2 separate regions of the Homo sapiens genome follow, and region 2 is linked to region 1. The links come from fine-mapping of genetic effects on gene expression. A gene starts in region 1. The other region holds a variant in brackets. All regions are shown on one strand. Distances are between the middles of the regions.

Evidence for each region. PIP is the estimated chance that this variant, and not a neighbour inherited with it, causes the effect. A credible set is the group of variants that fine-mapping cannot tell apart.
Region 2: its variant is the best candidate, but not a certain one, in a credible set for the expression of METTL9 in blood mononuclear cells (TOPMed, PIP 0.58).

The regions. Positions count from the first base shown.
Region 1 is chr16:21,598,165-21,601,069 of GRCh38, reverse strand. It overlaps METTL9 (methyltransferase 9, His-X-His N1(pi)-histidine), which reads right to left and starts at 1,493. Exons shown (of 5, transcript NM_016025.5): 1 at 1,172-1,493. The coding sequence starts at 1,336. LOC101927814 (a long non-coding RNA gene) reads left to right here and starts at 1,685. Exons shown (of 3, transcript NR_110930.1): 1 at 1,685-2,414. RefSeq lists an enhancer at 214-778 and a silencer at 887-1,506.
Region 2 is chr16:21,630,492-21,633,396 of GRCh38, reverse strand. The region is part of intron 4 of METTL9 (methyltransferase 9, His-X-His N1(pi)-histidine); the gene reads right to left. Among named protein-coding and RNA genes, the nearest start is that of IGSF6, 21 kb to the left of the region's middle. The variant T/C (reference allele first, on the strand shown) is at 1,241.

The DNA.
Region 1 (2,905 bases):
CAATATACATATTACTAAAGACTAAATGCTACTTTTCTAAATTGCTCTATCTCCTTCTTAGACAATTCTCTACCCTCATTAAAACACATGAAATCAACCTGGGTGTAAATTCTCTGAACACCTGGCATAATAAAAAAGTAATGTAGGAAAATGAGAAATATATGAAAATGATGAGACACAAGATGATATAGGGAATAATTAATACTCTATGGAAAAGCAAAATGTATTATAAATGCTAGCTATGACAAGCCAACACTCTGGCAGAGTTCAAAAGCCTCTTTTCAATGAATTTAACATTAACTGCAAACTATGTTAAGGTCATATACGAAATATCTCACTTAATTCTACAGTTAACCTGTACACGTTTAAGTGGCGCAAGACTGAGCTAATGAAAAGCCTACCTACCCGGTCACAGCGTAACGCTCACGATGCATAACTAAAACTCCCTCCCGTCCCGTTCTGTTTTAAAAACCCTTCCTGTAAAACTTGCATAATCTTCCTCCTCATCACACACAATCTTTCTAGCAGGCTGACTAAATCCAAGTTTAAAGGAGATCTCTGCTAGGTAGGAGGGGAAGGTTCCGTAGGATGGGAGCGACAACCTGTCAAACCCATTTTTTAAGTGCTTAGGGAGAAATGTCACCCCAATCAGCCTGGAGAGTTCAATGGCTTGCGATGTACAGTTACATTTCTTCACGACCCTTTGTACGTTCTGGGATTCAACGAGACAACAAGAGGGGCTGGCTTTTCGTTTTGTTTCTCGGGGTAATGGATCTGGCCGGGTCTCTTCAGTCTCAGGCCTCGGTGCCAGGCGGGCGCCCCCAGCCACGCTCTGGCCCCAAAGTTCCCCAGTCCCGCTGCCGGGCGTCCGCAGTCACCGCCCGGGACCCAGGAACAATGCGGGGCTCCGGGCCGCTCACGATCGGGCCCGGGAGGCCATGCCCCGCCTGCGCTGCGGAACAAAAGGCGCTCGCGGGGCCGCGGCCGGGTGCCCGGGGCTCGCGGAGTCGACGCCCGGCGGGGAAGGCGCGGGGAAAACTTTCCAAGGGGCCGAGGCGGAGGGGCGAGGGCCGGGCCGCCCCCTCGCGGAGCCGTCCCGCACAATAGCCGGGCCCAGCGCGGGAAGGCCGGGCCGCCACGCCCCCGCCCCGGCCCCGGCCCCAGCCCGTACCTGGTGGTTCTCCTTCCTGCCGCCCGCGGCCGCCGCCGGCCCACCCGGGCCGCTAGTCATGTTCACGTACAGGGAGCGGGTGAGCGGGCTCCGCAGCGTCCACATCCTCCGCGCCAGCCACACGGACGCCAGGCTCAGGCACAGCCAGCCCGCCAGCAGTCTCATCGGGGGCCGCGGCCGCTCGCTCGGATCACCGCCGGCGCCGGGGCGAGGAGGAGGAGGCACCGCCGCCTCCGGCCACCGCCGCCACCGCCCGAGCTCGAGCCATCGCGGCCGCCTTGCCCATCCAGCCCCCTTCAGGGCAAAGGCTGGGGGTGGGGAGGAGCAGCCGGCGCGCAGCCTCGGCACCTCCCCCTTCCCTTCCGGCCGCGGAACGCCGCTGCCCCCTGCACCAGTTTCCATCCGGAGCACTTACGAGCGGCCGCGTCGCTTTCTCCCCCGGCGCCCTCCCTCCGTCCAATGAGCGGGCCGCTGGGAGGCGGGACAAAGGGAGCGCGCATCCGCCCGGAGCGCGTTCTCGTGTCCCGGCCCTGCCTTGGCCTCTAGTAAATGGCGGAGGTGGTTTTAATTTTTTTGAGGGCTGAGGAGATCACTTCCGAAGGCGGTAACTGCAGCCTCCCTGCCCCTCCAAGGTGGTGCTGGAAGGACCTCCAGTCTTTCCTCGCCTCATCCCACTCCACGGCGGGACTTTGACAGGGTTACCTCTCGACCCTCATCCCACTCCACGGCGGGACTTTGACAGGGTCGTGCAGTTAACCCCGGGGGCGCAAAGAGGGGAGTCATTCCTTTCGTGCATCCTGACACACACAGGTTCTTCCCGGAGACGAATGGTGCCAGTGATGGTTGCCCGCTCGGATGCGTAGTTTCCAGTTTACATTTAGAACCGACCTGCCAGACTCCCTCCTCTACTCTCCCCACCACCACGACCCGCCTGCCCCGTTCCCCAAGCCTGAGAAGTTGCTGGCTACGTGTTTCTATAAAGAATGAGTGAAAATTCTGCCTTTTGGGGAAGCTACCGCAGCTGGGGTACCCACAAGTAATGTTTTAGATGTATTGATGGCCCTGCCCAAGAATGAAGACCTCAAGTTAGACTCCTTGGCTGCCTTGTTTCCTTGAATTAGCACAGGGAAGTTGGACCCAACACTCTTAAGAGTGAACTCAGCTCTGGGAGCAGTGTTTAACCCGGATATTTATTTGATCATTTATAACACGAGGAGACCTAGCAACATTTCAGAACTGAAGGGTTAGTTACACTGTGTTCCTGTCTGCAGTTCTTCCTGCTATTATCCAAGCCACAATTAAGGAGTAACATTTCGTGGGAGTCCCTAACTTTAATACTTTCCTAGGTTTGTTTGGAAAGTGCTTTTAATTTAACTGCACCAGAAATAATGTAAATGTGTCTAAGTTCAAAACAAAAGAAGTAAGCCTTTTGGTTAATTCAGCGTTGCACATCAGAGATTTTCATTTATGAAACAGTGGGGTGGTGAGCCACAGATGGGGAACAAAATCATTCCTTACCCAACAGCTTTTTTTTTTTTTTTTTTTTGAAACGGAGTGGAGTCTCGCTCTGTCTCCAGGCTGGAGTGCAGTGGCTCGATCTCGGCTCACTTCAAACTCCGCCTCCCGGGTTCAAGCAATTCTTCTGCCTCAGCCTCCCGAGCAGCTGGGACTACGGGTGCGCGCCACCATGCCCAGCTAATTTTTGTGTTTTTCGTAGAGACGGGATTTCACCAT
Region 2 (2,905 bases), 32 kb before region 1:
TCCAGACACTCTGATCCTTCAGTATTTGGATGATTTACTTTTGGCTACCAGTTCAGAAGCCTCGTGCCAGCAGGCTGCTCTAGATCTCTTGAACGTTCTAGCTAATCAAAGGTACAAGGTGTCTAGGTCAAAGGCCCAGCTTTGCCTACAGCAGGTCAAATATCCAGACCTAATCTTAGCCAGAGGGACCAGGGCCCTCAGCAAGGAATGAGGGCCCTCAGCAAGGAACAAATACAGCCTATACTGGCTTATCCTTGCCCTAAGACATTAAAACAGTTGCGGGGGTTCCTTGGAATCACGGGCTTTTGCTGACTATGGATCCCCAGATACAGCGAGATAGCCAGGCCCCTCTATACTCTAATCGAGGAGACCCAGAGAGCAAATACTCATCTAGTAGAAGGGGAACCAGAGGCAGAAATAGCCTTCAAAACCTTAAAGCAGGCCCTAGTATAAGCTCTGACTTTAAGCCTTCCCACAGAACAAAACTTCTCTTTATACATCACAGAGAGAGCAGGGATAGCTCTTGGAGTCCTTACTCAGACTTGTGGGATGACCCCACAACCAGTGGCATACCTAAGTAAGGAAATTGATGTAGTAGCAAAAGGCTGGCCTGTTTACGGGTAGTTGCGGCGGTGGCCATCTTAGTGTCAGAGGCTATCAAAATAATACAAGGAAAGGATCTCACTGTCTGGACTACTCATGATGTAAGTGGCATACTAGGTGCCAAAGGAAGTTTATGGCTATCAGACAACCACCTGCTTAGATACCAGGCACTACTCCTTGAGGGACCAGTGCTTCAAATACGTATGTGCGTGGCCCTCAACCCTGCCACTTTTCTCCCAGAGGATGAGGAACCAATCGAGCATGACTACCAATAAATTATAGTCCAGACTTATGTGGCCCGAGATGATCTCTTAGAAGGCCCCCTAGCTAATCCTGACCTTAACCTATATACCGATGGAAGTTCATTTGTGGAGAATGGGATACAAAGGGCAGATTATGCCATAGTTCATGATGTAACCGTACTTGAAAGTAAGCCTCTTCCCCCAGGGACCAGTGCCCAGTTAGCATAACTAGTGGCACTTACCTGAGCCTTAGAACTGGAAAAGGGAAAAAGAATAAATGTGTATACAGATAGCAAGTATGCTTATGTAATCCTACATGCCAATGCTGCAATATGGAAAGAAAGGGAGTTCCTAACCTCTGGGGGGAACCCCCATTAAATACCACAAGGCAATTA[T/C]GGAGTTTTTGCATGCAGTGCAAAAACCCAAGGAGGCGGCAGTCTTACACTGCCAAAGCCATCAAAAGGGGAAGGAGAGGGGAGAACAGCAGGATAAGTGGCTGGCAGAGGCAGGGAAAAACCAGCAGAAAGGGAAGAGAGGAAGAGACAGAGGGAGTCAGAGAGAAAGAAAGAAAGAGACAAAGTCAAAGAGACAGAGACAAAGAGGGAGTCAGTGAGAGAGAGAGACAAAGAAAAAGTCAAAGAGAAAGAGAGATGGAAGTAGTAAAGAAAAAACAGTGTACCCTATTCCTTTAAAAGCCAGGGTAAAGTTAAAACCTATAATTGATAATTGAAGGTCTTCTCTGTAACCCTGTAACACTCCAATACCACCTTGTTGTCAGTGTAAACAAGGGCGTAGCGCGAAAGCACTGAGGCCACTGACAACCCATAGCCTTCCTATCAAAAATCCTTAACCCAGCAGGTTTCCTAACAGGGGATCTAAATCTTAATCACCATACAAAGGTCCAATCAGACATAGGAGGAACTCCCTTCAGGACAGGACGATAGATGGTTCCTCCCGGGCGATTAAGGAAAAACGACACAATGAGTATTCAGTAAATGATAAGGAAACTCTTGTAGAAACAGAGTTAGGAAAATTGCCTAATAATTGGTCTGCTCAAACTTGCAAGCTGTTTGCACTCAGCTGAGCCTTAAAGTACTTACAGAATCAGGAAGGAGCCATCTATACCAATTCTAAGTTAATATACACTAAACGAGGTCTTATTAATAGCAAAGAATAATTGAAATCCCAAACTTAAAAGGTTTTCAACAAAAGTAAAGTTTGCTAAAAGTTAACAGTGTAAACATATATTATCCTAACTTCTAATCTTGTGGAAATCAGACCCTATCAATACTCTTCAAAGCTCAAGTCCGTCAGCACAGAGCCATACAACTAATACCCCTATTTATAGGGTTAGGAATGGCTACTGCTACAGGAACCGGAATAGCCAGTTTATCTACTTCATTATCCTACTATTACACACTATCAAAGGATTTCTCAGATAGTTTGCAAGAAATAACAAAATCTATCCATACTCTACAATCCCAAATAGACTCTCTGGCAATAGTGACTCTCCAAAACCCCTGAGGCGTAGACCTCCTCACTGCTGAGAAGGGAGGACTCTGCACCTTCTTAGGAGAAGAGTGTTGTTTTTACACTAACCAGGCAGGGATAGTACGAGATGCCGCCCAGCGTTTACAGGAAAAGGCTTCTGAAATCAGACACCACCTTTCAAACTCTTGTACCAACCTCTGGAGTTGGGCAACATGGCTTCTCCCCTTTCTAGGTCCTGTGGCAGCCATCTTGCTGTTACTCACCTTTGGGCCCTGTAATTTTAACCTTCTTGTCAAATTTGTTTCCTCTAGAATGGAGGCCATCAAGCTATAGATGGTCTTACAAATGGAACCCCAAATGAGCTCAACTAACAACTTCTACCGAGGACCCCTGGACCAACCCGCTGGCCCTTCCACTGGCCTAAAGAGTTCCCCTCTGGAGGACACTACAACTGCAGGGCCCCTTCTTCGCCCCTATCCAGCAGGAAGTAGCTAGAGTGGTCATCAGCCAAATTCCCAACAGCAGTTGGGGGTATCCTGTTTAGACGGGGGATTGAGAGGTGACAACGT